2 separate regions of the Homo sapiens genome follow, and region 1 is linked to region 2. The links come from fine-mapping of genetic effects on gene expression. Tissue or cell type: prefrontal cortex. Region 2 holds a variant in brackets; the other region holds the start of a gene. All regions are shown on one strand. Distances are between the middles of the regions.

Region 1 (5,373 bases), 25 kb after region 2:
ACTCTCTGACACCCTCCTAAATTAGTTATACCGTCTTCTTTATTTGCAGCACTCACAGTTGTATTTATTACTTTTTTCATTCACAAATAAAAATTTTATACATTTCTTGTGTACAACATGATATTTTGAAATATGTATACATTGTGGAGGGGCTAAATCGAGCTATTTAACATATGCATTACCTCACGTACTTACCATTTTTTGTGGTAAGAACACTTAAAATCTACTCTCTTAGCGATTTTCAAGACTCCAATAGATTGTTATTAATGAAAGTCACCATGTTGTACAATTGTTCTCTTGAATCTTTATACTTCTATATGGGCTGGTCATTGGGTTCAGGCTGCTTCTGAAAAGGAGGTGTGACCTGGGGAGGCAGCAATCTTTGGTCAAAGGCAATTCCCAGAGAGGGCTATTCGCTGAGGGCTGTCAGCCAGCAGCACTCACCATGGAGGGAGAGAAGACCTTCAGTCCCCAAGATGGATCTTGGAGGCTCATGACAGCATTCACTGCATGGACCTATATTTCATACATTTCCGGAAGCAGCATCTCCAGCATTCCCACAGCCTTGTTCCCTGGCAGGGTAAAATAAAGATTAGTGGGACAAACTACAGCTTCCATCACAACTGATACTCATTGTCTCTCTCATCCTCAGGAAACACCTCTGCTGGTTGAGTCACACTTCTTGCCGGTTGGTGTGACCTAGACCCTCATCTCTAATGACTCCAGTCCCTGGACATTATGCCTTCCTCAGGCTCTGGTTGATGAACTTGCCCATTGATCATCAAAACTGGTCAGAGGAAGTGCCAGGAGGTGCACAGTGGATCATCTGGGTGCCAGATTTCTTTGTCCCTACTGGGCACAGCAGCTGTCTTTCCTCCTGCTGGTCAGGGCCAATTTCCTCTGCCAAGATGGTGACTCCGCTTCTTGTGAGGTTCCTTGGCACAGGCCCCAAGTGTCCTGGCAGCATGTGCTACATCCTTTGGTAGGAAGGTTCCCCCTCTGGAACCTGGACCTCTAAACCTGAAAAGCCCAGAATAGAAGGGATAGGAAGCACAAAGTCCCCAGTGGGTTACAAGCAGTGACAGTAAATGGGGCCATGCCACTATAGTTTCCTACTACTGAATCCTGGAATTAGGTTTGGTAACTCACGCAATCATAGCCCAGCTGGGCCTGGGAAGAGTGAAGCAGGGTGGATCAGAGTTACATCAGCTTCCTCCTCCTCCCTTACCCCTGACTTCGTTCTCATACAAGGATAGAGTTCGCTCCTGGAAGAACAATGGAGGATGTGTACTATTTGGGGACAGTTCCTTTTTTTTTTTTTTTTGAGACGGAATTTTGCTCTTGTTGCCCAGGCTGGAGTGCAATGGCACAATCTCAGCTCACTGCAGCCTCCACCTCCTGGGTTCAAGCGATTCTCCTGCCTCAGCCTCCTCAGTAGCTGGGATTACAGGCATGTGCCACCATGCTCAGCTAATTTTGTATTTTTAGTAGAGACGGGGTTTCTCCACGTTGGTCAAGCTGGTCTCGATCTCCCGACCTCAGGTAATCCTCCTGCCTTGGCCTCTCAAAGTGCTGGGATTACAGGCATGAGCCACTGTGCCATCTGACAGCTTTATTCTTAAGAGGAAAAGGGAGCAACTGAGCCAAGCATTTCCAATTTGCTCTTCCCAAGTTAATCGATGAGGTATCACACGACTTTCCCTGTGGCAGAGTGAGTGCAGTGGTAGAGAGATGCTGACAGTGTTGTGCTAATGGGGCTCCCTCCACTTGGAAGGAAACAGCAAGAATTGTGAAGAATTTTCTTTCTTCAAAAGCTCCAAAGTGTTGTTTATTGAGCACTTACTCTTTGCCAAGCTTCCTGCTCAGTGTTTTTCTTATCTTCACAACAGTCCTTTGAGGTGGGGGCTATTTTTGCCTCCAGTTTATTGATGATTAAGTAAAGTACAGGGAAGTAAATAAATTGGCTGAGAGTCTAACCCAGTCAAGCCCCCAGTCAGGCCCCCAGGCCTGGATCAACAATGGTTGACCCAGGCTCCGAACCACTAATTTAGTAGCTCTTTTGCCGGTTTGCTTAGGAATCATCTGGGGTAGTTTGTGATAACTCAGATCCTGGACCCACCTTCAAAGATTCTGATGGGCTTGAGGCAAGGCCCAGAAATCTGAATTTTTTAAAAAAATTCAATTTAATTTAATGTTAAGTTCTGGAATACATGTGCAGGACGTGCAGGTTTGTTACATAGGTAAACATGTGCCATGGTAGTTTGTTGCACCTATCAACCCCATCACCTAGGTATTAAGCCCTGCATGAATTAGTTATTTATCTTGATGCTCTCCCTTTCCCTGCACCCCCCATGACAGGCCCCAGTGTGTGTTGTTTCCCTCCCTGTGTCCATGTGTTCTCATTGTTCAGCTCCCACTTATAAGTGAGATCATGCAGTGTTTGGTTTTCTGTTCCTGCGTTAGTTTGCTGAGGATAATGGCTTCCAGCTTCATTCATGTCCCTGCAAAGGACATGATCTTGTTCCTTTTTATGGATGCATAGTATTCCATGGTGTATATGTACCACATTTTCATTATCCAGTCTATCATTGGTGGGCATTTGGGTTGATTCCATGTCTTTGCTATCATGAACAGTGCTGCAATGAACATATGAATGCATGCATCTTTATAATAGAATGATTTATATTCCTTTGGGTATATACCCAGTAATGGGATTGCTGGGTCAAATGGTATTTCTGGTTCTAGGTCTTTGAGGAATCACCACACTGCCTTCCACAACGGTTGGCCTAATTTACATTCCCACCAACAGTGTAAAAGCGTTCCTATTTCTCCAGGAATCTGAATTTTTAACAGGTTCCTCTTTATCCCTCTGCCAGGAGAATATGATTTAAGTGACATGACTTCCATCCTTTGAGAAATACTTCATGATACTATACTTTCTTCTCATGTGTAAGCCCAGGGCATGAAAATGAATAATTGCTACCCAATAATTGGGCATCTTTTCTGTTTCCACTGCTGGAAGGAGGGGCAGATGGGTTGGAGGAGCACAGTGTGAGGATAGGCAGGCTCAACTTGCTTATGGAGCACAGATCACCAAAGATAATGCAGCACACCGTTGGCAGAGGGCTAAACCATGTGGCTCAGACTGGAAACACACTGAGAATTTAGAAAATGGAGCCACCACTTTAGTGGGACCTGAGTGGTCAGCGAAGGAGTTAGTAGGCGAGCTGGGCTGGTGAAGGGGATACAGCAAGTGGGAGAAGGACAAGGAGGAGCTACTTGGAGAATATGTCTAAGGGAAGAAGGTTAGACGTGGGGAGCTGGAAGAACAGATGTGATATGGGAAGAAGAAGAAGCAGAGACACATGAGATCATGCTGGCAGTAAGCAGGTGCACAGTAGCACGGGGGTGTCAGCCTCCTCATTGTGGAAAGCATGAGCCTTAGCCCCAGAAGAGCAAGAAACATCCACAGACAGCCTGAGAAACCATGAAGACCAAAGAAGGGACAATGGAGCAGCAGCATCCAGTGGATGTTCAACAAGCATGTATTGCGCGTCAGGCATCGAGCCAGTACTTACGATGCAGAGAGGACTAAGACTCTGTTCCCACTCTCCATAAGACACTACCAAAGTGTAGAGTTAGGGAAGACAGCTTCAATGTGTTCATTTCTTTCATATATTTAACTAAGCTTTTTTTTAAGTTTTATTTTCTAAGCACATAAGGCAGACTTTGTTAGCTTTGAGGGGAATCTGTGCTGGGTAGGGAGGTGGTAAGAAAAGGATGAAAAGAGAAACAGTCTTTTCTCCAAGCAAGTTAATGCTTGAATAGGGGGAATAAGACATAGTAGGATGTAGACACTAAGACTGGATTCTAATCTTCTGGGATTCCAAGTTCTTCTGCATGAGCTTAATGACAATGAGATTGCTTGTGACTTCACTCCTCGCCTTGACCACACAGATGGAAGGTTTTGGCTGTGTTAGGTCAATGCATGGGGAAAGGTGTCAGCTTCCCCACCGTGCAGTCAGTGTTGTGCAAAAGCAGAGGCAGGATCTGAGGGCAAGACAAACTGGGGGCTCCTGCTTGATTGTCTCACCTGCCCCTCTTTGGCAGCGGGTTGTGTCCCTGGCCTTTTAGACCTAAGCAGAGAGGGAATTTCAAGTCAGGTGGCGCCTGTACAGTCTATGGAATAGGTAGTTAATGAGGTCTGGAGTTGATGTTGCCTTCCTCTCCTTCTCTGATCACTTTCATGTCACTCACCCATCCCAGATGCCATGGTGTTCTCAATGCCCCAGTTCTGGGGTTTCCTGCCCCACTCCACCTTTCCTTTCCTGATCCTCAAGAAAACTGACTTCTTTTCCTAAGCCCCCCGTCTCCACTTTGTGAGGGGCATTCTGAGCATGGAGGCTAATCAATATGTTCTCAGTATCCAATGGAAGCCTAACGTGCCACCTCTTCCAAGGGCAGTGCATTTTAACTCAGACCCAACGCCCCAACCAAATGAAAGATCTCTAATCTGGAATTTTCAACAATGGGGCTGGTGGGTCAGGGTGCACCAGATCTCAGGAGGTTTATCCAGAAGACTTTCAAGTGCCCCAAGAGGCTGAGTGGTCCGCCAAGTGCCTGCATGTGTGCAGTCAGGAAGCTTGAGTCTGGGTTCTGCCTGGGGCAAGTCACTACAACTCCCAGAGCCTCATTTCTGCTATTCGTAAAATGGAGAAGACACCTCCTATGATATCAAGTCACTGACTTGTTCCCAGGTAAAAATGAGATGGAAAGCTGTTTTGTGAACCAAAATGCATGCTTTTGTTACAGTGCGGGGATGCTGGCTGGCAACGGCTGTGAAGTGCAAGGCTGGGGGAGGCAAGAGGGTGCTGGTGGGAGGAGAGCTGCAGAAGCAGAGTAATCTGCAGAGCTAAAGCAGGCTGTGCAAGGAAGGGGCAGGTGGCCTTTCCAGAAATCTGTACAAGGCTGTCTAATTGCACACAGAATGGGATTTAATGCAACCTGCATGACAGTTCCCTGCCTCCAGCCCCTCCTTCCATCACCCCTGCAGCTGATGGAGAAGTTGAGTTTAGGAATTAAAAGGGTGATTTTGCAGGAGCAGAAGTTATTTCTGCTACCATGTCTCTTATCATTAAAAAAAGAATAGAGAAACTTCCAGAAACGTTATTTTGAGGAGAGGGGCTTGGTTCACCTGCTGACAATGAGGCAGTGAGAAGAAGACACTAGAGAAGGCAGCTCTACATGCACTGTAGGCCTGAAGGACCCCACAAGACTGCCCGCTTGGGCTGACCTTAGCAAAGACTGGACCAGCTTGGTAATTATTCAGAGACTATTAAGTGCATGTTGCCTGTGGATTAATTAGCTTAGAAG
Region 2 (5,373 bases):
AGCCACAGACTTCCCCTTCTGCAGAGTCATGGGCTGAGTGGCCTGTCCCCAGAGACAGCACTGTCTCTCCTCTAAGCCAACAGAATGAGACCATTGTTTTCATTAGCTCCTGCCCCTTTAGCCTGGGATCCACCTCAGTGTGGATGAAGACAGAGGCGAGACTTTCCCTCATTTCAGTTTTGTTGCAGTAACTGCTGGAGCCGAGGCGTCGCAGGGAAGAAGCCATATGAGTTCACAGGGAGGGAAGCGGCTGTGCGTGCTCCGCTGCGGGGGTGGGAGGGGGTGGGGTAGGGAGGTCTTGGCAGCTCCTCTCGGTTAGATGGGTGTGATTGTTCTGTAACCGAGTGTGTTCCAGACAGTCTGTTTGACTGTTTGTCCTCTAATTCATTACTTCAGTTTGGCCCTGCCTTCATGATACATGTGTTAATCACTCTGTTTCTAAAACAAAATTGGAAACAGTTCCTGCAGCCTCACTGGGACCCTGGGTGGCCGCCACGGGCACCCACATTCTTTGTTGAATCTGGCCCCTTGGTGCTCTTTGGGGCTGCTTAAAAGACTCTGTTTCTCCCACCTTAGGAGCTGCCAGCCCCTCAGATCCGGAGCTGGTGGAGAGCACAGCAGCGTCAGCGCAGGCCACCGTGGGAGGGAGGGAAGGGGACTCGTGTATGCAGAGCCATGTCTGAACTGAGCTCAGGGCTAGAGACCCACACAACAGCGGGGAAGACGGGGTTGATAGTTTATAGTTTGAGCTCCCTGAGGGGCTCCTGAGGACTTCGGAGAGGTTAAGAAATGTGTCTCAGGTCCCTGCTAATAATTAGCAACATCTGGCTTCAGAGCCTGTGCTCTTTCTTCTATCCTGTTTGAACCGCATGGCACCCATCACCCCACTTCTCAGGTTGCCTTGTGGACCAGGTGATATTTGAGGGTTGTGTTAGAAGGGGACTAGCTAATGCAGATACTAATACTAGCTAGTGAGCCCAGTGTGAACAGTGTCTGCTCTGTAGAAAGATTTTTTTCCGACCTGAAGTAGTAGGACCACCCTCCTGCGTGGTTATTCTGGATCATGCCTGTTCCTCCTCAGGTTTATTTCTCTCCATCTATGTTATTTATGATTTACTTGTTCCTTGACACTGGAGACCATGTTGGTTTCATTCACCTCTGCGTCTGCAGTGTCCTGGCCCGTGCCTGGCACTCACTGAATCCTCGTGGTTTGTTGTTACAGCTTAGCTGTATGCTTCCTCAAGGCAGGAATTGGGGCTGCACACTCACCATTTTCCCCAGCACTGAGAATAGTGTCTGGCATAACGAATGAAAGTGAGTAAACAAAGGTATCCACTTGAGGCTTAGTACTGTTATGCAAAAAGCACTGGCTTTGGAGTTAGAATGTGGCTTCTCGCCCTGCTGTCACTCCTCATCTGGCCCTCAGCTTCCCCAAGTAGAGTAAGTCCCTCTTGCTCCAGGTCTGACCAGTGGTTCTCTGTGTACATGAGGTGTGTGAGGTTCCTGAAGATGGAACTTGAGCTACTCAGAGGAGCTCATTGGGCATCCACAGCTGCAAAGGGTTAGAAGTCAAACCTTTTCATTTCTTTCCTTTGGTTTTACTTCTTAGATGAATCTTTTTTTCTCACTATAATGTGAAAAGATAGTTGGTTTCTTTTTCTGCGAAATAGACAAAGAGGTATATTTTGGTGCAGATCATTCCTCAGCCTTGCAAAATTACCCTGAAGCCCTTACTAAGCGCACAGGGATACATGTCCCCTTCACCCCACTCTTAGTAGTATTGGGGCAATACTTTAGGTCACACACTTTTAATGCATGTTTAATTCCTGGAGTCCATTAAAAATAAGAGGGCCAGGGAGTTACCCAATCAAGAATTCATTGAGTTCTGGTGCCCAGAGGGCTTATGTTCCCACGCTGGCCTTTGCAGTAGTGATGATGATCTTTCCCCCAGCACTACCGTATTATCCAGCATCATCTGGGAGCCCCTGGACACAGCCATCATGCAAGCACATGGCAGCTGGTGGCATAAAGAATCCACTGCACCCCCACCTCCACCCCCAGACCTGCCCTGCAATTGCACAAAAAGGAAAACAACCATAATCATCATCCTGATGAGAATGATAATAGGCACTTAGAGCTTTCACATCTTTTATCCAAGGGATACAATATGCTCTCCCAAAAAATTTTTATTCCAGTGTTGTGGGAAGTAGAAGGGGCACAGTAGTGGAGTTGGCGAGATGCTGTAGTGACAGGAATGAGGGAGAAGCCAAGGGGTCTGGCCTCTGGAAGGTCCCTCTCCTGAGGGGCAGCCTGAGTCCTCTGTGGGCTTCTACTAACACCTTCCTCTCTTTTTTTTTTTTTTTTTTTTTTTTTGCATTCAGCATGATCTACACTTTAGTGAGCTCTTAACGCAAAGACCATGCACATCATCAGAGACTGAGATGGGAGAGGCCTGAGACGGAGAGGTGCATTTCTGCTGGTGACTGGAGGAGGGACCAGAATGAGGATACGTGAGAAATAGACCCGGCAGGCAGTCAGACTGAATGGGAGCTGGAATCACGCAGCAG[C/T]TGGGAGCCGAGTTAACCCTGCGTGTCTGTGTCACCCTGTTTGTCAATCTTTGGCATTCGAATTCCACACACGGGGTCCTAGAGCCCTTCTGAGCATCAGTGGTGTGGGGGAGTAGGTGACGAAACACTAGACCTCTCCTGAGAGAGAATTGCTGCTTCCTGAATCCACTTCATTGAACAGCACCTTGCAAGTTCAAATGAGTTCCTGGGAGCGGAGGCTGGAAGGCCACAAGGTGCTTGCTAAGGAACAGAATGACCCAGAGTCAAGGCCAAGTCTGCAGGGACCTGTTGAAAGCCTCGAGAATGTCTTGGCTGCCCAAGACTCTTGTTGCCTTTCTTCCAAGCCATGGCCATGCCCTTTTTCTCAAATGGGAGGGGCTGGAGGGTGTGTGGGATTTGTCTTCAGCTGCAACCAGCCTTGAGCCTGCTGGGCTATTTTCAGCTGAGGAGGGGTGAATATAGGAAAAATGCATTTTTGAAACGTTTGCAACATGATCAAGGTGTTAGTTCTCCACCACACAAGTTGTATTCTTCTTTTGCCACCTCAAACCATCACAGAGTCTTTAAATGCAAATCAATTGGTCAATGCTAGTCAAAGCTATGTTCTTACAAAAACCCCAGACAGCTCAGAGCTCAGAAAATCCTGTGGAGTGGCTGCTCTGTACCGTGGGCATCCGGCAGCCAGGAAGTGAGACAACATAATTATAACTTTGTTTTATGATGCTGCATCATTTGTACTGTTTAGGTCGACGTGAGGACATCATCTTATTTAGAATTTTCCGTTTGGCATTCTCTTTTGGGTGGGAGTTATGCTGGGGGTTGTAAATAATGACAAGGCTGAGATTTTTATGATGTTTAAATTGGGCACAATGATTTTGACCTTATTCCCCAAACTTCTTTTCTTTTCTACTGTTTAACATACACAGGCTATTTATACACGTCCCCAGCTCCCATCTGAAACCTGTGACTCAGGTTTATGAATGGTGTTTGTGTAGCAACACATTGTGTGCTATGTTTATTAAAATGCAGCGACAACTTGAGTGTCTCACTTAACTGGCTCTCTCATTTCAACCATTACAGCTGAATTTGTCTACATATGGTTGGAAAACTGATAGGAAGAAAAGGCAAATTTTCAAAAAGGCATCATGCTGCTAAAAATTCTGTGGAAAACAAAATGCAGACTTTTACTCTGAGGTTTATGGTATAAAACTGGAGAATTTGAGGTGATGATTTTGGGAGAAGGCTTCCTCTTGGCCAATGCCCTTTTTACCGACCAGGTAACTGTTGTTAGGGATAGAGTTACCTTTCGGCTGCTTGGGCCTGGCTTTGGCTTCATTCCTGAGAAGACTAGTGACCCTCATCCAGAGAGGCAAGCCTTGGATGGCAGGCTGCAGACGCTAATCTAATCGCACAGCCGTCCTGCAAATGCAACTGGATGTAGAAGGTGAATGGTCTGTGTTACTTCTCACCATGGAGCTGTTTTGTTTCTATACTCTGTCTTCTTTCAGAAAGATTTGTAGTGGCTCATAATAGGAGACACAAGTACACAAAGACCATTAAAATGGAAGTAGAAATGTCTTTTTTTTTTTTTTTTTTTTTGAGATAGGGTCTCACTCTGTCGCCCAGGCTGGAGTGCAGTAGTGCAGTCATGGCTCTCTGCAGCTTTGACCCTCCTGGGCTCAGGTGTTGCTCCCACCTCAGTCTCCCGAGTAGACTACAGGTGCACACCACCATGTCTGGCTAATTTTTGTATTTTTTGTAGAGATGGGGTTTTGCCATGTTGCCCAGGCTGGTCTCAAACTCTTGGACTCAAGCAATCTGCTCACCTTCACCTCCCGAAGTGCTGGGATTATAGGCTAAGCCACTGCCACTGGCCTGACAGCTCTTATGTTTATGAAAGAGAAACATCCAGATATTTCCCTCCGACAAGTTGTGATTGGGAAGTAATTCTCGTGATCTGTTGGGAGTTTCAGTGAATTTTCAGTTCCTGGGAGAAGCTAATCATGATGATAAAGATAAGAGTAAAGGGCACAGTTGATGGGGCACGTGCTGTGCGCCAGGCACTGTGTTAAATGCTCACGGGGTGACCTCACCCACCCCTCACAGTGATCATGCACAGCAGGTTAGCTGTTCTCGTCCCCACGTCACCCATGAGAGAACTAGGGAGCCTCAGGGAAGGTGAGTCTTCCCTAGGTGAAGTAGCGCAGAACAAGGCCTTGATGCTACGAAGAAGTGGCCAAATAATGACAGTTATAAACCAAGGCACCTGGCAGTGATCTAGATGCTTCATATGCTTTTCCCTGATCCTCATGACAGTACCACAAGGTGGATATGATCTCTCTTTTATAGATGAGGAAACTGAGAAGAGGAGTCACTTGCAGAGAGCCACAGCTAGCAACGGGTATGTCTAGCTGTAGCTGGGATTTAAACCCAAGTCCGCCTCTTCTCACATAATTTTGTTCTTATTGCCCAGTCTCTTATTGTGTATCCCACAGAAGTGACCAAAGGGAAGAAGAGAGGAAAAGCAGGAGAAACTCCTCTGTTTTCCAAAATACAAAGTGAATATTTTCCTTGAGAGACAAAAAGCTCACCTTTCCAAGCATGCGTCAAGGAGAGAGCTTCCCAGTGGGGCAGAGTCAGCTCCTGAAGATGGTGTTGGTGAACTGGTTCCCATTCTTTAGAGAGGTAGAGCTATAGGCCTGGTGTGGCTGTGCCCAAAGGGTCAGAGGGGAACCTGGAAGAGTCACTTAAAGCTCACTTTTCGCTTTGCTAAGGTGGAAGAATAATGGCACCTACCACACTGGCT

Which allele goes with the higher level. Alleles are on the strand shown, and positions count from the first base shown. SD is a standard deviation of normalised expression in the study named.
With allele C in place of T in region 2, the expression in prefrontal cortex of the gene that starts at base 2,794 in region 1 is lower (small effect, 0.30 SD a copy in ROSMAP).

Evidence for each region.
Region 1: it holds the start of LINC02813, and the variant in region 2 is fine-mapped to the expression of LINC02813 in prefrontal cortex (ROSMAP, PIP 0.95).

The regions. Positions count from the first base shown.
Region 1 is chr1:224,762,397-224,767,769 of GRCh38, forward strand. It overlaps LINC02813 (long intergenic non-protein coding RNA 2813), which reads left to right and starts at 2,794. Exons shown (of 3, transcript XR_001738495.2): 1 at 2,794-4,757. It overlaps LOC124904523 (a long non-coding RNA gene), which reads right to left and starts at 572. Exons shown (of 2, transcript XR_007066898.1): 1 at 445-572; 2 at 1-364.
Region 2 is chr1:224,736,948-224,742,320 of GRCh38, forward strand. It overlaps CNIH3 (cornichon family AMPA receptor auxiliary protein 3), which reads left to right. Exons shown (of 6, transcript NM_152495.2): 6 at 2,382-3,607. The coding sequence ends at 2,409. Among named protein-coding and RNA genes, the nearest start is that of CNIH3-AS1, 9.0 kb to the left of the region's middle. RefSeq lists an enhancer at 245-294. The variant C/T (reference allele first, on the strand shown) is at 2,568.